2 separate regions of the Homo sapiens genome follow, and region 2 is linked to region 1. The links come from fine-mapping of genetic effects on gene expression. A gene starts in region 1. The other region holds a variant in brackets. All regions are shown on one strand. Distances are between the middles of the regions.

Region 1 (10,098 bases):
ACGTTGTGTTGAGTGATCTCCCCGGCCGTCTAACAGTAGAAGGGGCGTGGCCAGACGTCGGGGCCAGGATGGCGGGGCGGGGCTTAGAACGCTGGGAGTCCTCGGTCCAGGACTAGAACTCCCGCAGCTGCTTGGAGGATGTGAAGTGGGGCGGGACCTATCCCGCGGGGATGGGGCCTGTTCTCTGAATGGAGTCGTTCCCACCAAGCGACGGGCGGGGTCTGGAGCTGGGGGCGGGGCCTGCTGTGGGGGCGGGGCCTTGCGCACCCACCGACCCCCAGCCCCACCTCTACCCCCAGTCCCAGCCTCGCCGCGCACCTTGACTGGCTGGCCGTTGCTCGTCCGCAGGAGGCTCTCGTCGTCCGCTTCGATGCCGAAGGCCACGAAGGGCCCCGTGGCGATGTCCCCCCAGTACCCGCGCGCTGCCACGCGCTCCCCACGCTGGAAAAGGAGGGAGAGAGGAGGCAGGTGAGGTCGATGTTGGGGCCCCTGACTCCTAGGACTCCGAGCAGCAGCAGTGGGCCAGGACAGGCAGTGGACACGCACGTAGCTCAGGAGGCGACCGGACGCCAGGGTCCGGTTGGGCACATGATAGGCGCTGGAGTCCCTGAGTTCAAAGGCGACGCCTGTGTCCCGCCAGCGTCGGAACTCCTGGGGGTGAATGACTTGAGCCTGGGGTGGGGGGCGGGAAGAAGGGAGCCCTCAGTGAACCGAGCGTGGAGAGACCCCTACACCAGCCTCCCTCAGACCCAGGAGTCCAGGTCCCCAGGCCCTCCTCCCTCAGACCCAGGAGTTCAGGCCCCCAAACCCTCCTCCCTCAGACTCAGGAGGCCCCCAGCCCCTCCTCCCTCAGACCCAGGGGTCCAGGCCCCCAGCCCCTCTCCTGGGCCCCTCACCCCGCGGTCATGCAGCTTCATGCGCAGGTCCCAGTCGCTGACACCGCGCCGGGCGTCGTAGCGGGAGCCCAGGTAGTGGCGCAGGCGCGAGTCCCAGAGGCGGCTCATGGGGAACGCCTGGGGCCCTTTCTCGCCGCCAGCCCAGAAGCGGAATACGGCCTCCAGGGCATCCCGCTCGCGGAACTGCGGGGCCAGGCACGCGGTGGGACAGAGGAAGGCAGAGAGGGATGCAGGGAGAGCGGATTCTAATTGACCCTCTCTTCCATCCCAGAACAGGGGAACGATTCCCCCGTTTCTCGGATGGAAAAACTGAGGCTCCGAAAGCAGAAGCCACCTCCTGCCCCCAGGCCAAATCCCACAGTGGGAGTCGGGGAACTGGGATTCGAACCCCCTAGCCCGCCGCCTGCTCCATCAACGCACGTCCTTTGGACTGTGCGCTTCCATTATTCCCGCGGCCACCCGATCCCAGATGGAGGCCGGGCGGCGGCACCTTGAGGGCGCGGAGGCTGAGCCAGGGCAGCTGTTCCTCCAGGCGGTCGGGCTCGGGGACCAGGTGCGCCAGCAGGTCGGCCTGGGCACGCACGAAGGCGGCCACTGGCGGGCGCAGCAGCGCGTTCCCCCACACTTCCAGGAAGGTCTCGCTTCGCTCTACGGAGAGAGGGAGATAATTGCGGGAATGTGTGGAGGAGGGAGCCCAGAAATTACACCCTTAATATGTTATTATGTCATAGTCATCTAATGAAAACAATGAACCCCCGCAAACTCCCCACGCATCCCAAAAACTACATGAAGAACAGGGCCGGACATGGTGGCGGGCGCCTGTAATCCCAGTTACTCGGGAGGCTGAGGCAGGAGAATCGCTTGAACCCGGAGGCGGAGGTTGCAATGGGCCGAGATCATGCCATTGCACTCCAGCCTGGGCAACAGAGTGAGACTCCGCCTCTAAAATAAATAAATAAATAACCACCTAGAAGAGGGAATTAGAGTTGCAGATTCCACACTCACCGCAGACAGAGAATATTTGGGGGAAAAGATAACAACACAACAGTAAAAAATAATACAAATTGTAAAATATGGTGTAAGCATTTACATTGTATTACATATTATAGGTAATCTAGAGATGATTTGCGGTGTATGGGACCATGTGTACAGGCTATTTGTAAGTACATCTTTTTTGTTTTGAGACAGTGTCTCACTCTGTTGCCCAGGCTGAATGCAGTTGTGCCATCATAGTTCACTGTTACCTCGACCACCTGAGCTTAAGGGACCCTCCTCCTCCAGCTTCCCAGCTAGCTGGGGCTAGGCATTAGCTACCACACCCAGCTAATGTTTTATTTCTTTTTCTTTTCTTTTTCTTTTTTTTTTTTTTTTTTTTTTTTTTTTTTGAGACGGAGTCTCGCTCTGTCGCCTAGACTGTAGTGCAGTGGCGCGATCCCGGCTCACTGCAAGCTCCGCCTCCCGGGTTCACGCCATTCTTCTGCCTCAGCCTCCGGAGTAGCTGGGACTACAAGCGCCCGCCACCACACCCGGCTAATTTTTTGTATTTTTAGTAGAGACGGGGTTTCACGTGTTAGCCAGGATGGTCTCGATCTCCTGACCTCGTGATCCACCCGCCTCAGCCTCCCAAAGTGCTGGGATTACAGGCGTGAGCCATCGCGCCCGGCGGCTAATTTTTTTTTTTTTTTTTTTGTATTTTTAGTAGAGACGGGGTTTCACCGTGTTAGCCAGGATGGTCTCGATCTCCTGACCTCGTGATCTGCCTGCCTCGGTCTCCCAAAGTGCTGGGATTACAGGCGTGAGCCACCGCGCCCGGCCAATATTTTATTTCTTGTAGAGACGGGGTCTCACTATGTTGACCAGGCCAGTCTCAAACTCGTGGTCTCAAGCAGTCCTCCCACCTCAGGCTCCCAAAGTGTTAGGATTACAGGCGTGAGCCACCGCCCCTGGCAATACTATACAATTTTATAAGGGACTTGAGCATCCTTGGATCTTGGTATCTGCAGGGGTCCTGGAACCAGTCCCCAGTGTTACTGAGGGATGACTGTATATACCTTTGCATATAATATATATACACATAGACATACAAATAGTTTCATGTTAGTTGTTTAAGAACTTAATAGAAGAGAACTATGTGCCTTTAGTAAAATAGATCAGTTTAGTTCTAACTGTTTAAGAACTTTGAACAATCTGTACTGTGCAATGTACTCTGAATTCCCTGGGTCATTAATGACTGATATGGTTTGGATCTGTGTCCCTGCTTAAATCTCATGTTGAATTGTAATCCCCAATATTGGAGGCGGGGCCTGGTGGGAGGTGATTGGGTCACAGGGGCAGATTTCTCCCTTGCTGTTCTCGTGATAGTGAGTTCCCACAAAATCTGGTTATTTGCAAGTGTGCGCCTCTTCCCCACTGCCTCTCTTGCCCCTTTTCCTGCCGTGGAACAGATGCCTGCATCCCCTTCGCCTCCTGTCATGATTGTAAGTTTCCTGAGGCCTTCCCAGCCATACTCCCTGTACAGCCTGTGGAACTGTGAGTCAATTAAACCTCTTTTCTTGGGGCCGGGTGTGATCGCACCCGCCTGTAAACCTAGCACTTTGGCAGGCCAAGGCGGGCGGATCACCTGAGGTCAGCATCTCGAGACCATCCTGGCCAACATGGTGAAACCCCGGCTCTACTAAAAATACAAAACCTTAGCCGGGCATGGTGGTGCATGCCTGTAATCCCAGCTACTTGGGAGACTGAGGCAGGAGAATTGCTTGAATCCAGGAGGCAGAGGTTATGGAGAGCCAAGATCGTGCCATTGCACTCCAATCTGGGCAACGGGACAAGACTCTGCCTCAAATAAATAAATAAATAAACAAACAAACCTGTTTTCTTTTTCTTTCTTTCTTTTTTTTTTAGATGGAGGTTTTGCTTTTGTCGCCCAGGCTGGAGTGCAGTGGTGTGATCTCGGCTCACTGCAACCTCTGCCTCCCGGGTTCAAGTGATTCTCCTGCTTCAGCCTCCCGAGTAGCTGGGACTACAGGCGCCTGCCACCACACCCGGCTAATTGTTGTATGTTTAGTAGAGACGGGGTTTCACCATGTTGAGCAGGATGGTCTCGATCTCCTGACCTCGTGATCTGCCCACCTCAGCCTCCCAAAGTGCTGGGATTACAGGTGTGAACCACTGCACCCAGCCTCTCCTGGAATTTTCTAAGTGGCTCTAAGATGTATTATATTTAGCCCCATTTTACAGGTAGGAGGAGCTGAGGCTCTAAGATGGCAAATTACATCAGAGGGGACCATCATCAATAAATATATTGGATTTTTTTTTTCATCAGAGGTACCACACTGGAAAATACCAAACATTTTTGGTTTTTAGATGGAGTTTCGCTCTCTTTTTTTTTTTTTTTTTTTTTTTTTTGAGACGGAGTCTCGCTCTGTCACCCTGGCTGGAGTGCAGTGGCGCGATCTCAGCTCACTGCAAGCTCCGCCTGCCGGGTTCACGCCATTCTCCTGCCTCGGCCTCCCAAAGTGCTGGGATTAACAGGCGTGAGCCACCGCGCCCGGCCGGAGTTTCGCTCTTGTTGCCTAGGCTGGAGTGCAATGGCGCGATCTCGGCTCACTGTAACCTCCGCCTCCCAGGAAAATAACCAAACTTTTTAATTGTACCATTGAAATGCCAGAATCCCTCTAGGGAGGGGGAGGAGACCAGCGGTCAGAATGCCTGGGTCCTAGCAACAGACCTTGCAGCCCCATCTTCTCCGGTTCCTCCAGGGCTAGGCTGAAGATCAGCATGTGTCGGGCCACAGCTTCCAGATTATTCTCCAGCACAAAGAACTAGAAGGATGGACAGGGCAGAATAATTCTGAGACCTGTTTGCCTGGGTCCTAGGAGACCCAGGAGAGCAGGCCCTCAGCTCTCTCCTTCCACACACCCGAGTTCTGTACACCAGCCTCTTCCTTCAAACACAGAAGTCTGTGTCCCCAGAGCTCTCTTCCCTTCCATTACTCAGAAGACCTCATCCTCGAGCTCTTCCCCACTATAGAACCCAGGAGTTCCAAACCCCAGCCCCTTCCTTCCCCCAAGACGCATCGGTTCGCTCCCAGCTTCTGCCTCCCTCAGATCTAGGAGTCTCCAGCCCCTTCATTCCTGGACCTGAGGTTTTAGAATTTCAATCCCTTCCTCCCTCAAGGACTCGGGAATCTGGGCTCTCATCTTCATCCCAGCTCACGTTGAACCTCCTGCGAGGCCAGAACTTCGCTCGGGACAGGGTCCGCAGCAGGTGCCGTCCATCCACAGAGCCCAGAAGCAGCACATCTAGCTCGGGGTTGCTGTGCACTGTATCGGCCTGGGAGTCTGGGTCCACAGGAGGACCTGGCAAGATGACAGCTGGCTGGGGCACCATGGTGGTTGGCAGAGCGTCCACCGTAGCATCCCCTATAAAAAATGGACTACAAATCCCAGTAGGCGTTCCGCCCGTGGCCTAGGTTCTAAGGGGAGGTGTTTCCTCTGAGTATTCTGGGATTCGCAGTCCGCAGACAGGACCTCGGGGCTGCCCCTGGGAGCGCGCCCTCTGCCGCTGGAGCGTTGGAGAACGTTAGCGCCCCCCTTGCCACCGACGCTGGGACTACGAGCTCTAAAAGGCCGTCTGCTCAGGCTGGGAAGGCAGACGGTGTATCAGACCTTGCGTGCTGGGACTCACTTTCAGCCTGCAGGTCCAGCGCCGGGGACAGGCCCCACCAGGACACGGAGCCGAAGCCGCTGCCGGAGCCGGCAGGTGTGGTCATCACCCTGCGGAAAAGACATTCTGGGAATCGCACACATTGCCCGCCCCGCTCCCCTCTCACCGCCCCTCACTTCTCGCCCCTTTGCCTCCACATGATACCTTGCCCACACCTTTATCCTCCAAATATCCCGGGACGCCCCTTCCTCTCTGCTCAGTGCAGCACTGTGGACCCGCGGCACTCCACAACCGCTGCCCAGAGTCCCCGCCCTTTTCGAGGAATCAAGCAATGGAAGCATGTGGGATGGGACCACAGCGAGCAACTGACCAATGAGAGTGAGCGAGGCCCGCCCTCTACAAACTTTTGGCCAATGGGAGCACTGAGGGCCAGCCTTCCCCCACACCTAGGAGAAGAGGGCGTGTGGACGCGGTTGTCATGACGACGGCGCCGGCGGGGGAAGGGGCGGTGCTAGAACAGGTTGGGGCGGAGTCAGGGTCGGTCCAAATTTCTGGAATGGGGGAGGCCTGGGCTGATTAAAATTGAGAGTGAAGGGAGCTTAATCTTATTTCTTGTTTTTTGTTTTTTTGTTTTCTTCATATGCCTTTGCTCATACGTAACGGAATTTTCATCAATTCAAATAAAGTGAAGTGTCTAGACTTTAGATGGCAGGCTTCTGAGCCCGCTCCCCGCCCCAGCACAACGTGGGCTCTACCACACAGAACAGCCCACAGGTGGGACACTGATGTGCAGGTCATTAAAAATTCAGGGATTTGTGAGCTGGTTATTGTTACACGAAGCCATAATTTAAACTTACAGCTAGATCCTTTTGTAGTTTCTAAGCGGGATGATTGGGTGTTCACGCGCATGCGTGAGATGTGCCTCCCTCAAACCTTGTTACGACATCGGCACATTACTCTTCTGACATGAACAAAAAAATTACAGGTAAATTCTGTAATCGTACAGTTAAATCAACTGCATTAAAATAAGGGTAAGTCGGCCGGGCGCTGTGGCCACGCCTGTGATCCCAACACTTTGGGAGGTCAAGGTGGGCAGATAACTTGAGGTCAGAAGTTGGAGACCAGTCTGGCCAACATGGTGAAACCGCGCCTCGACCTTAAAAAATACAAAAATTAACCGGGCGTGGTGGCACGCACCTGTAATCCCAGCTACTCCGGAGGCTGAGGCAGGAGAGTCTGTTGAACCTGGGAGGCAGAGGTTGCAGTGAACTGAGATCGCGCCTCTGAACTCCAGCCTGGGCGACAGAGCAAGACTCTGTCTCAAAAAAAAAAAAAAGAAAAACCAAAGTCTGAATGAGGCACATCTCTAGATCACCCCAGCACCCAGCACTGGGCTCAGCGCCCAAGGGGACTTGGCTCTCTGCCTCCTCTCCTTGCCCAGACACATGAGCTTAGACCAGTCACCCTTTCTGAGCCTCAGTCTGCTGCTCTGTGAAATGGGAATGTAGCGTGCAGCGGGCAGAGGTGCAGCGGATCTGCCTCCTGAGGGCAGATCTGGGCACTGGGAAGACAATACCTACTGGGGAAACGAAGGTTGAGACCTCAGACATTCCTGCAGAATCAGGCTGGCTAACCAGCCCCTTCCAGGCCAGCTCTAAGCCTGCAAGAGCCCCAGATCCTGGGTTTCTCTCTGGAGAATTAATGCCTTTCCTCCCTATTTCTCCCACTCTCCCAACAAATTCTCAGCAAAGGAACCAGAGTGACATTTTTTTTTTTTGAGATGGAGTCTTGCTGTGACACCCAGGCTGGAGTGCAGTGGCGCGATCTCGGCTCACTGAAACCTCCGCCTCCCGGGTTCAAGCGATTCTCCTGTCCCAGCCTCCCAGGTAGCTGGGACTACAGGCATTTGCCACCACACCAGCTAATTTTTGTATTTGTATTTTATTTTGTGTATATATATATATATACACACACAAAATAAAATACAAATATATGTATATATATTTATATATACACAAAATAAAATACAAATATTTTGTATATATATACAAAATAAAATACAAATATACATATATATACATATATATATATATATATATAGAGAGAGAGAGAGAGAGAGAGAGAGAGAGAGAGTTTCACTCTTGTTGCCCAGGCTGGAGTGCAATGGCGCGATCTCGGCTCACCGCAACCTCCGCCTCCCGGGTTCAAGCCATTCTTCTGCCTCAGCCTCCCGAGTAGCTGGGATTACAGGCAGGCGCCAGGACGCCCGGCTAATTTTGTATTTTTTGTAGAGACAGGGTTTCTCCGTGTTGGTCAGGCTGGTCTCCAACTCACGACCTCAGGTGATCTGCCCGCCTTGGTCTCTCAAAGTGTTGGGATTACAGGTGTGAACCACCGAGCCAGGCGATTTATTTATTTATTATTTTTTTTTTAGAGACGGAGTCTTGCTCTGTCGCCCAGGCTGGAGTGCAGTGGCACGATCTTGGCTCACTGCAACCTCCGCTTCCCGGGTTCTAGCAATTCTCCTGCCTCAGCCTCCCAAGTAGCTGGGATTACAGGCGCACGCTGCCACGCCCAGCTAATTTTTTGTATTTTAGTAGAGACGAGGTTTCACCGTGTTGCCCAGGCTGGTCTCGAATTCCTGAGCTCAGGCAATCCACCTGCCTTGGCCTCCCAAAGCGCTAGGATTACAGGCGTGAGCCACCGTGCCCAGCTCCAGCGATTCTTTTTTATTTTTAGTAGAGACGGGGTTTCACCATGTTAGCCAGGCTGGTCTCGAACTCCTGACTTCAAGAGTTCCGCCGGCCTCAGCCTCCCAAAGTGCTGGAATTACCGGTGTGAGCCACTGCACCTGGCCCAGAGTGATCTTAAACATAAATCAAATAATGTCTCCCACCTCTTCAAATCCTCCAAAGTCTTCCCGCTGCACCTGGACACATTCCCCGCTCCTTAGCTTGGCTCCCTATGCCCTATGCAATCTGCAGTCATCCACCCCTGAAGCCACATCAGCCTCCTGGCTCCTTGGAGAACACACCAAGCCGTTTGAACCCCAGGGCCTTTGCAACTTGGGATTCTTTTGCCTTAAATTATCTTCCCCCTCATCTTTGTTTTCTATATATTTATTTTTGAGACAAAGTCTTGCTCTGTTATCCAGACTTGAGTTCAGTGGTGTGATCATAGCTCACTGCAGCCTCAACCTCTCAGGCTCAAGCAGTCCTCCCACCTCAGTCCCCTGAGTAGCTGGGACCACAGGCAAGTGCCGCCATGCCCGGATATTTATTTATTTATTTATGTAGAGAAAGGGTCTCACTAGTTGCCCAGGCTGTTATTTATTTACTTATTTGAGATGGAGTTTCACTCTTGTTGCCCAGGTTGGAGTGCAATGGCGCTATCTCGGCTCACTGCAACGTCCACCTGCCGGGTTCAAGCCATTCTCCTGCCTCAGCCTCCTGAGTAGCTGGGACTACAGGCATGTGCCATCACGCCCAGCTAATTTTGTATTTTTAGTAGAGACAGGGTTTCTCCGTGTTGGTCAGGCTGGTCTCAAACTCCCGACCTCAAGTGATCCGCCGGCCTTGGCCTCCCAAAATTCTGAGATTACAGGCGTGAGCCACTGCGCCCGGCTGTATTTATTTATTTATTTATTTAAGGCAGGGACTTGCTCTGTTGCCTAGGCTGGAGTACTCCAGCCTGAAACTCCTGGGCTCAATCGATCCTCCCACCTCTGCTCCCCAAGTAGCTAGAACTATAGCCACGTGCCAGCATACCTAGCTAACTTTACAAATTTTAAAAATAGAGAGGTTATCCAGGCTGGTGTCTAACCCTGGGCCCCAAGCAATCCTCCTGCCTCCCAAAGTGCTAGGATTAAGGCATGAGCCATCGTGCTTGGCCTTGTTTTCTTTTTAAATTGGTGTAAAACACACACACTATTAAGTTGATTGGGAATGACATTTAGTACACTTGCAATGCTGTGCAACCATCACCACTGTCTAATTCCAGAACTTTCTCATCACTCCAAAAGAAAACACGTACCCCATTTATCTCCCCATTTCTCTCTCCTCTGTCCCTGGCAACCACGAATCTACTTTCTGTCTCTATGTATTTGTCAGTGCAGGAGATTTCTTTTGGATGGAATACTGCACTATGCAGCCTTCTGTATCCGGCTTCCTTCACTTGGCATAATATTTTCAGGACTCATCTATGCTGAAGCATGAATCAATGCTTTCTTCTGTTTTTATGACCAAATAATATTCCACTGTTGTTCTCCCTAACCTTTGCAAGCTTCGTTCCTTCTTGTCATTCAAGTCATGGCCCAGACCGCACCTCCTCAGCAAGGCTGCCCCTGACCACCCTCCCTAAGTTATGTCAGCCTTTTTACGTTTTGGTCCCAGTGTGGACGGCCATTTGTAATGGTTTTATTCTTCTATCGCTCTGCTTTCTTGTTGAGACAGAGACCCAAGGACCCCATTGCCATCATCTAAATCAATCCCAGGATTTAGAGACAGGCTCTCTGGCTGTGTGATTCTGAGCATTTCAC
Region 2 (10,098 bases), 62 kb after region 1:
AGCCACCTCGCCTTTCAGCCCACACAATGAAGGTTTATGAAGCCCCAGATTCCAGGGCCTCCACCACAACCCCATCTCTGCCACACTTCTGGTCCCACTGGGGGCCGTGGTCCCTGCCCACTGGACCCAGTAGGTGTAGGTGTGGGGGTCTGGGCCCCGGGGGGATATACACCTTAGTGTAACAGAACTCAGGGTCTGAGCCTGTATCCTCAGATCCATGACCTGGCCGGGTAAGGAAAGGAAGGGAAGGGGGTCAGGGTTCCTGCAGGAAGGTTATCTGAGTGGCCTTAAACAGACCCAGTTGTCTCTTACTTGTAGTTCTCAAGAGTAACAGTAGAATGTGCTGGGAATGCAACATCCGGAGATATGGAGGGACTGGCCAGGCGGCCTGGGCTCCATTCCTGCCTGCCCTAGAAACAGGATGCCCTTCAATGCTTGAGCCCGGTGACTCAGGTTTCCCCCAGAGTAGAAAACCCAGGGCTGGGTACTTTTTGGGGTCCCTCAGCTGCCATACAAGTGAGGCACACACAGTTGTGACCCTATCCTCCCTAGGCCACTTTCCTAAGCCTTGGGGGACCAGCTTACAACGGACCCTGGGATTCTGCTGTCCCTTGCTGCCCATCTGTGAGAAACAAGCCCACTTCATGTAACTTTTTGCGTGTGGCGTTCTGTCTCATCACTCTGGCAAGTTGGTAACCAGTGCACAGTGAACCTGCTTCACAGACCACACCCCATAGTCCCTGGGCCTCCAGAGCAAAGGGAAGCATCCCCTCCTTCCCACAGCCCTGCTTGCTCTGGAAGGATGCACCCTATCAGTGGGGCCGATGCCAGAGGCCTCCTGAGGCCTCCTACTCCCCAAGCCCAGAGTGCTCTCACCCCTCGCCCGTGGCCTCTGTGAGCGTCTGGCTGGGGCTGTTGACCTCATGCTTCTGGGCCCACATGCTGGGGTACTGCGTCCCTGCAGCCAGGCCCTCCACAGGCACCCTGATGTCTGAGGAGTCACTGGCCCAGCAGAGCCAGTAGGGGCAGGTCTTGGAGTCTGGGCCTGCGGGGCCCTCAGGGTGAGGGAGCTGGTGGTCTGAGCCGGTGTGACCAGGCCAGGGACTAGTTTGGGAATGTGGAAAGGAGAGAGTCATTTGATAAAGTTTGTTTGTGGCTCTAATGAGAATAAAGTGCACAGCCTGGCACTTTTTACAAATGTGCACACGCACGCACGCGCACACACACGCAAACACACATGCACACACAAGTGCACGTGCACACACACGCACATGTTGCTGGGCAGTGGAAAGGTGGCCCCTCTTACCTGTAGACATGCTCAGGACGTCCCTGGGGCCACCTACTCCTTTCTTCTTGGCCCACACAGAGGTGGTGTAGAGGGTCCCAGGCTGAAGCCCTCCACCACGAGCCAGCAGTGTGACGTGCTTGTGTTCCCGCTGGCCATGCCCCTGGACCCAGTAGATGGAAGTCTGCCGGTCTGGGCCCTTGGGGCTGCCCAGCTCAGGGTGATGGAGCTGGAGGTCCGAGCCTCCACACTCACGATTCTGTCTGCTTTGGCGGCTGACATGGGTAGAAGCCTCTGCGGCAAACAGAAGACGGAATCCCACGGCCCTTCCTAGACGTGCAGGATGGAGGCTGATGGGGTCACTAACCTGCTGCTGTGGCCTCTGTCGTGGTCCCGAGGGCCTGGGGAGGGCCCAGATGGGGAATCAGACCCACGGTGGTCTGACCTGCAGGATCGGGATGAAGGCTGCTGAGTCCCACCCCGCCTCATCCCCACCAGCCACCCCGGCTTGGGAGGGAAGATGGAGCCGGCGTTTTGCCCCTTGCCCCAGGTCTGGGTCCCGGCAGGGCTGGAAGGAGCCTGAGAGGGATGTGCGCAGCACCTCCGAGAGTCCCGCTTTAGAGAAACACGAATCAGATCATGAGAAAGCAGACCTCTGAGAAGTCAGATGAAAGGTCGTCGGGGGACCAGAATCAGGGAGGAGGGACACGACGCTGGGGCTGCTGGATGCCGACAGGAGAGCAGCGTCCCGTCGCTCTGGACTGCCGACCCCACAGAGCCCAGGGACCAAAAGCCAGAATGTTCCCCAAACACCAGGGATTATGGGCCCAGCCCCTCCTCCCTCAGACTCAAGAGTCCAGGCCCCCAGCCCCTCCTCCCACAGACTCAGGAGTCCAGCCCCTCCTCTCCCAGACCCAGGAGTTCGGGCCCCCAGGCCCTCCTCCCTCAGACTCAGGAGTCCAGACCCCAGCCCCTCCTCCCTCAGACGCAGGAGTCCAGGCCCCCAGCCCCTCCTCCCTCAGACCCAGGCCCCCAGCCCCTCCTCCCCCAGACCCAGAAGTCCAGGTCCCCAGCCCCTCCTCCCTCAGACTCAGGAGTCCAGACCCCCAGCCCCTCCTCCCTCAGACCCAGGAGTCCAGACCCCCAGCCCCTCCTCCCTCAGACTCAGGAGTCCAGGCCCAGCCCCTCCTCCCTCAGACTCAGGAGTCCAGGCCCAGCCCCTCCTCCCTCAGACTCAGGAGTCCAGGCCCCCAGCTCCTCCCTCAGACTCAGGGGTCCAGGCCCCAGTCCCTCCTCCCTCAGACTCAGAAGTCCAGGGCCCCAGCCCCTCCTCCCTCAGACCCAGGAGTCCAGGTTCCAGCCCCTCCTCCCTCACCTCCAGGAACCCCTCATGTCTGCAGGCCCCACGTGCCCCTGGAATCTGCACACCCAGACCCCCGTCCCTCCTGCTACACTTCACTGCGCAATTTCCTCTTTCCCCACCTTTCGCCAGGTCTGAGTGGAGAGGGTAGGAGATGAGGAGGAAGTGGAGGTTTCGAACCTGAGTCCAATCCTTCAGATCCTCCTCATGCCTGACCCTTCCTCAAGGAAATCCCTCAGCTTCCACTTCTCCTCACTCCAACTGTGGATTCCTGTCCTCACTTTCCTTCCTGGTCCCCGTCCTCCAGGCTCCCCACCTTCCCTTCCCACCTCTGTACTCTCACATCTGAGTCCCTAAATGCAGGTCATGGATGGAGAAGTCACCTCTCTGCTGTAAGAGTCCCTAAATGCTGGCCATGGATGGAGAAGTCCCCTCTCTGTCGTAAGAGTCCCTAAATGCAGGTCATGGATGGAGAAGTCACCTCTGCTCTAAGAGTCCCTAAATGCAGGTCATGGATAGAGAGGTCGCCTCTCTGCTGTAAGAGTCTCTAAATGCTAACCATGGATGGAGAAGTCGCCCCTCTGCTATGAGTCACTGAAAGCACATCATGGATGCAGAAGTCAAATAGGGTCTTGGAGAGCAGCTTGGACCCTGTCAAGTCTTCAGATGCAGAATCTGAGGACCTGAGGGATAGCAGCTTGCCGAGGTCACACAGCCTTGACAAGGAGCACAGCTGGGTTCCTCCTTCCCATTTGATTCCTACCCCCTTGCCGCCCTCCCTCCTCCAAGACCCCTCATCCTCAAGCCTCCCACCCTTCTCCCGATACTGCATGTGACTGCAGCGGGTTGTATCCCCTAGAAAGATATGTCCAAGTCCTAACCCCAGATACCTCTGCAGGTGACACTACTTGGAAATAGGGGCTTTGCAGACATACTTAAGGATCTTGAGATAGAATCACCCTGGGTTTAGGGTGGGCCCTAAATCCAATGACCTGTGTCCCTAGAAGGATGCGGACACAGAGGGAGGCTGCCAGTTGAAGACAGTCACATGAAGACGGAGAGACACAGCCACAGGCCGATGGAAGCCAGGGATTCCCGGGAGCCTCCAGAAGCCGAGAGGGCAAGGACGGATTCTTCCCTGGAGCCTCAAGAGGGACCATGGGCCGGAAAACACCCGGATTTTGGACTTTGGGTCTCCAGAACTGCAGGAGAGTCCATTCATCTTGTTTCAAAGCATCTGGCTTGGGGTAATTTGTGACAGCAGCCTCAGGAAACTAACACAAAGACCAAACAGTCCTCTTGGCTCAGTTCTGCACAATCCTCACTTTATCCCCCCGAATCCCCCCACCAGAGGGCCATGGAGGGTCCCACTGGGCACCAGGCCTGGTCCATGGGGAGCGACAAAGAACCTTCTGCTGTCATTAACCGCGATGGTTTATCACAATCATGACCCTCCCCGAGGCCTCTCCTACGGTAACAGCAACATCTACGGTTCCACACCCACAGGGAAAACGGATTCAGAGCAGCAGCAGGGGGCGGGCAGGCTGTGGGGCCGACAGTGAACATGGAGGCAGGCTGGTGGCTGGGAGGGCTCCATGTGGGCCTGGCTGAGGAGCCAGGGATCTGGAGTCAGAACCGGGGGAAGGCAGCTGGAACCCAGTAGTGGACTTGGAATTCCGCAAATCGTCCTCAAACGTCTTCAGCCAGAAGCGACGGCGGCAGCGGCGCCTGCAGACAGGCGTCAGGAAGCTTCGCTGCTGAGGGTATTTCTCAGGCTGGGCTGGGCTGGGAGGCCCAGGTCCTTGCAGGAGGAGAGGGCCTGAACACCGGCCCTTCAAGCTCCCTAGTCAGTCAGTCTTGGGCACCGGGCTCCTGAGGGCTGACAGTGTGATGAGGAGCTGGGCAGCATAGTAGGTGGTCATGATCACCAGGTGGGCATGGGGCAGGGGCTGGGCGAAGGTGTCCCAGGCCAGCACGCCATCAGAGAGCGTGAAGAGCAGCGCGCCCCAGCCGGCACTCCCGCCCTGGGCCAGGCCGCGCCACAGCATGGCCATCAGGATCAGCCCATAGGCTGCCACCGGCAGGACCATATCCGGCTCGAGGTGCTGGAGCACAAGGCTGAGGTAGGGGCCAGGGGCCAGGATGATGAGCAGCAGCAGGCCGGGCTGCAGGGGAGAGAAGCCGAAGGCCCAGACGTAGAGGAGGTGGGCGGTGGCAAAGGCGGCCATGCCTGGCGGGAGAGGGGTGGGGTACCAGTGAGGAAGGCCCATCCTGGGAATGGCCCCGAGGTCACCCCTCAGGGCCTAAGAGAAGGACCATCCCAGAGCACCAGGCCCCACCCTGGCCGAGCCTCCTTGCAGGTCTCCCCACATGCAGTGTCCATCCTTGCTCTGCTCAGAACTGCCAGGAGGCCCCACCTTCCCTTGGCCTCCAAAGCCCCATGGCCTCCAGCTCTCCAGCCACTCTGCGCCAGCCACCCTGGCCTGCTGGGCTACAAGCACCTGACACGTCCCTGCCCCGGAGCCTTTACACTCGCCCTTCCTCCACACAGGCATACAGCCCTTCAGCTCTGCCCAAATGTGACTTCCTCAGTGAGGCCTTCCTCAGCAACCCTGCTTCAAACTGCAGTACCTCCAGCAGGTCCTCACTGCCCTCTGCGCCACCTCAGCTACTGCCCTAACACCGCCTGCCCCCACCCCTCGCTGGAGCGTGAGCTGCCTCGGTCACGGCTGCGCCCCCCACTGTGCCTTTGACCACTGGAGCTCTCACAGGAGCCCTCTGCACCCAGGCTCCCATCCAAGTGCTGGGGCCTCTCTCACACGGGCATCTGGAAAGCGTCACAGCACCTTCCACTCACCAGGGACGAAGGCTGCCGGCCAGATGAGGCAAGCGTCCCCCACAGCCGAGCACACAAGGGCTCCCTGGAGGAGCTGGGTGTAGCCCCCGCTTGGGGACATGACCCACAGGAACCCAGCCAGGCAGAGGAC[G/A]GGCAGGCACTTGACCAGGGCAGCGAACCAGGACAGCTGGTCCTCGGGAATCCAGAGGCAGAAGTACACGCAGCAGGAGAGGATGAAGGGGCTCAGCCACCTGCAGACATCTGGGCGCTTTGGGGAGTGGGGAGCTACTGAGCCGAAACCCAGCCCAGCCCCCATTCTTGGGACTCAGATCTCATGGCTCCTGTCCCACCCCCACCTGGGACCCCAGCTGTACAGGCTGGACCCATTCAGGGACCAGGCTGCCAGAACCCAGCTTCCCAGGGCCCAACCAACTCAAGGACAGCAGCTCCCAGACCCGCCGGCTGCTGGGGTTCCAGGGCCCTGTCCCCCCAGCCCCAGGCACAGCTCAGAAGGCTCTCACCTGGGCTGAGCAGTGAGTCTTCAGGGTCTGCCCCGCTTTGCCAGCGTCCATGCTGGCCTGATAGCCCCAGAGCGACCTAATCTGGGAGCGAGTGGCTTCAGGGGGTGGAGGGGAGGGCTCATGGTTACACGTTAACCCAAGGAGCGTCCTGTGGACTCTGTGACTGATAACAGGGCCCAGGGAGATGTTGTCCTCACCCTGGGGATGGCCCTGCCTGGCGCCCGCTGATAAAGCACTGTTGGCACTGGGGGTCCCTCTGCCCTAGCCTGCTGGGACATGGCTTCCTCCTCCTATCTGCCTGGGGAGGTTAGGCCCACAAATGCCTGTCCCCTTGTCCTGGGCCCCAACAATCAGAAGAGATGGGGTGCAGAATTCCAACAGCCACCCCATCATGGGAAGCGGGAGAGGGGCTGGCTGGCAGGAGTGCCCCTGGAGGGATGGGAAGGCGAGTCTGTCCTTCACTTGCTGCCCTAGCCGTCTCCCTCCCTGCTCCATGAAACCTTTCCTCATTCTGCTCAACCCCACCAAGCCCTCAGGGGCTCCACCACAAACACTGCTTCAATGGGTGACCAGGAGGGACCACCACGAATGCGGGGAACAAGCACCCTCTCCTGTTAGCTGAGCGAGCCCCCAGGTGACCTCCAAGCCAACTGCCACCCCAGTGAGGACGCTGTCCTCATGGCCCGGTCCACACGCTCCGGTTTCCCAGCGCCGCTCACCGGTGCCACTCGCTGCACACGCAGCCTACACTTCTACCTTCTACCTGAAAGACTCAGACCTACTGGGCGCCAGTACCCAGCCTCAATGCTGGGCTTGGTTACTGGGGGTAAGCAGGGGCAGGAGCAGGGATTTGAGCCTGTCGGTGGCTTCTATCCTCTGCCCAAGGCCCTGCCCACAGGTGGGGTAGACCTGGCAGGAGCCCTCACAGCCAGTGCCTGGCCCAGCCTGGGGCCTCTGCAGCCACAGGGCTCCCTCTGGCAGGACAGTGTGGGGGCAGACTGGGTCAGGAGCACCCCCAGCCTCTGGGGTGCAGGGATAATACAGGCTCCCCACCCCGCATCCCAGAACGTAAGGTCTGACCAGCAGAATCGTAAACTGCCTTCCTTTATTTATATTTGCAATATGAAATAGAAGCTCGGCACAAACGCACGCACACTCACACCAGCCTGGGAGGAGGGAGCTGGGGACAAGGTCACTTGGCAACAGGGCTGGGACCTCAGACCCTCAAGGCCCCTGGGGCTGTTGCCGGGGAGGCCCCTGCTCCCCAGAGCCGGACTGGCCTGGTTGAAAGTGCAGGGTCTGGGCAAAGGCACGGCCCCCACTCGGGACCCTCTGGCACCCCCACCCACGCTGGGCCGTCCCCCATGGTGGACCTGAGCTAAAAGGCCGGGTGTGGGCGTGGCCGTCTGCGCTGCAGCGTGGGACAGCTGGGCACGTGGGTGGCAACCTTGGGACCCCTAACACCAGCTCCCGCTGGGACGGAACAGGGAAGGCTGTGCTTTGGAGCCGCCAGCCCAGTTCGGTGTCCTCACTCTCTCTCGCTCTCCTCCCTCTCTCTATATAATATATAATATATGTTTCTCTCTCTCCATTCTCTCTATTTGACTCTCTGTATCTTTATTCTAGGAGGCAACGCTCCAAAACTTCTCTTCTCAGTGCAAATGGGGGTGGGTTGGGCCTGTCTCCCTGGCACCAGCCTCCTGGGGGTCCAGAGGAGAGAATGTGGGGGTGTCAGGGTGATGAGGGCAATGGGGGCCATCGTGGGACCCGCCCTGCCCCCACCCCGGGAGATCCACGGGAGGACGGAAGATTTGGCCGCCGCTGCCGCACCAGGCAGCTATCTGGAAACAGAGGGAGATGTCGTGTGAGGGTCTAGCAGGCCCAGCCCCACCTACCCAGCCCGAGGCTGCAGCCACACTCACTGGGAGCCTGGGGATGCAGGCCCTTCCGGGGCAGAGCCATTGGGTATCGGAGGAGGCGTGAGGGCCTGGGCACTGTCAGGGGAGAGAGGGGATGTGCAGAGGTCACTTCCTGCCCCACCAGCCCCACCCCCACCCCCCCGCCCTGCTGCCCTGGTGCTCACCTCTGGCTTTGGGGAAGCCCCAAGGGCTCTGGGCTCTTCTCCCCTTCTGTGGTCTGGGGGGGCTGGTGGGCCCCGGAGGCTGGGACAGAGGTAGAGGGGTCTCTGGTTGCACTGTGGGTGAGAGGCAGGTGCGGCTGTCAGCGTGGCCCCCACCGTCACCTGCTGACACCCTCACATCCCACCCGACTGAAGTCGGCTCACTGGGTGTGTGTCTGCCACCTGCCCCACGGGGAGGGGCCTCCCGAGGACGCAGCTGGCTCAGCGTGGAGGGACAGCACAGCCCTGGACAGGAAGACAAGCACCCCTCTTCCCGCCTCCTGTCCCTGTGGAGGAGGTACTCGAGGCCGGCTGAGACAGCCCCAAAGGGTCTTCTGCATGCTCTCACCCTCCCAATCCTTCACACCCTCCAACGAGCCCTTCCCAACCCTGGGGCTCAAGGGCCCCAAGCATCCCAGGCTACTAAGAGAAGAACCAGCCTACAGAGTGCAAGGGGCTGGGGCACAACATGAGGCTGCGCCTGGGGGTCCTGCAAAGGAGGCCTGGAGCAGCTCAGGGACAAGATGAACCCAGAGCCCACCTCAGCGAAGAGGAGAAAAGACTTCTCCCGATACTAGGCAGCCCCACCTCGCTGCTCACCTGTCCGAGGAGCTGGGGGCAGAACGGATCCCGTGGAAGGTGGCCTGAAGGTCCCCGATGCTAACCAAGGCCTGGCAAGGGGCTGTGGGGGATAAGAGATCTCAGCTGCAGCTCCCAGCAAGCTCGGAGCTGGCCAGGCTGCTCTCTCTGCCCAGGGCCGCGGGTGGGCAGGGCAAAGCGGGGCTCACCTGAGGGCTCCGTGACTTTGCTGCCTTCTGTGGCTTCCTGAGGTGCTGAGGGGGGTGTGGGGTCCTGAGACCTGGTAGGCGAGAGAGGCAGCCCAAGGGGGCAGCTAGGGTTAGCACTCGAGCCTATGAGAGGACGGGGACCCCATGGCCACCTCCTGGCCTCGGGATACCAGCACCATTTAGCCCGTTCCATCCGGTTCTCACCTGAGCTGCAGGGCGTCACGGGCAGGAGGGCTGGCCAGGCTCTGAGTGGGGAGGCCCTGGGGCACACTGAGGGGCCCCTGTGGGGCTGGAGGCCCAGTGTGCAGCTCTTCCTCCCCGGAGACTCGGGGGCTGGTCGGGGCATCTGTAGGCACTGGGTCAAAGGTGGCTGTCCAGCTGGGGCCTGGGATAGAGGTGGGGGAGCGGGATGGAGGGTGAACTCAGTAGCAGGCAGACAGCCCTGTGTACACCTGACCACACCGCCCATTCATTCACCTGGAGGCTGAGGGCCAGGGCTGGGGTAGGACAGAGGGGTGGCCCCTCCACGGGCTGCACAGCCAATGCCCTCCTCGTCTTCCTCCTCCTCCTCGTCCTCCTCTTCTTCGTCCTCACTGTCTGTGCTGCCTCCACTCCTGCCCCAGAAACCACCTCGTCAGCTAGCTGTGTGGGACAGACCGGCCGACACCCATCCTGTTCCCTGCAGCCCAGGGTCAGCCCAAGGAGAGCGGGCTGGGATGACAGGCAGGTCACAGAAGGGTCCAGGGAGCCTGGGGTGTGACGACACCAGGAGAGGCTGGGAGAGGGAGTTCTGAGCCAACGGCAAGAACACAGGCGGGCAGGGACAGAATGCGGCCGTAAGGAGACCGTCCGTCGCCAGTCATCCGTGGAGGGCAGGCCCTGGGGAAGTGGGCTGAGCCTCAGCCATGGCAACCAGAGCAGACAGACCCACTCACCAGCTCTCAAGCCACCTCCCAGCCGTCACCTCACACGGTCACCACAGTGACAGGCCTTCCCACCAGCAGGCCCACCCTCTGGACAGAGGCTTCACACTACTCTCTCCCTCCAACTAGAAACTCCAAGAAGGCAGAGATGGCTGAGTTTTGCCACTGCTGTATCCTCAGCCCTGAGAAACCACCAGGCACCCATAGCTGCTCCAAAAACACTGGCTGAATGTTGACTAACACACACCTGTGAGCATGAAGAAAAT

The links. PIP is the estimated chance that this variant, and not a neighbour inherited with it, causes the effect.
Region 2: its variant is fine-mapped to the expression of DNAAF3 in thyroid (GTEx, PIP 0.93).

What each region holds. Positions count from the first base shown.
Region 1 is chr19:55,160,747-55,170,844 of GRCh38, forward strand. It overlaps DNAAF3 (dynein axonemal assembly factor 3), which reads right to left and starts at 5,867. Exons shown (of 12, transcript NM_001256715.2): 1 at 5,777-5,867; 2 at 5,583-5,671; 3 at 5,112-5,254; 4 at 4,624-4,717; 5 at 1,387-1,544; 6 at 897-1,079; 7 at 547-672; 8 at 319-441; 9 at 1-29. The coding sequence starts at 5,667. DNAAF3-AS1 (DNAAF3 antisense RNA 1) reads left to right here. Exons shown (of 4, transcript XR_007067345.1): 2 at 300-468; 3 at 3,798-4,054; 4 at 5,073-6,158. LOC124904795 (small nucleolar RNA U13) reads left to right here and starts at 6,425; the gene lies at 6,425-6,528. RefSeq lists an enhancer at 6-932 and a silencer at 5,247-5,478.
Region 2 is chr19:55,222,689-55,232,786 of GRCh38, forward strand. It overlaps TMEM86B (transmembrane protein 86B), which reads right to left and starts at 6,075. Exons shown (of 3, transcript NM_173804.5): 1 at 6,003-6,075; 2 at 5,503-5,749; 3 at 3,950-4,875. The coding sequence starts at 6,053. The coding sequence ends at 4,493. It overlaps PPP6R1 (protein phosphatase 6 regulatory subunit 1), which reads right to left. Exons shown (of 24, transcript NM_014931.4): 18 at 9,387-9,523; 19 at 9,114-9,294; 20 at 8,910-8,980; 21 at 8,722-8,803; 22 at 8,086-8,196; 23 at 7,925-7,996; 24 at 7,091-7,843. The coding sequence ends at 7,840. It overlaps MIR6804 (microRNA 6804), which reads right to left and starts at 8,264; the gene lies at 8,197-8,264. The variant G/A (reference allele first, on the strand shown) is at 5,633.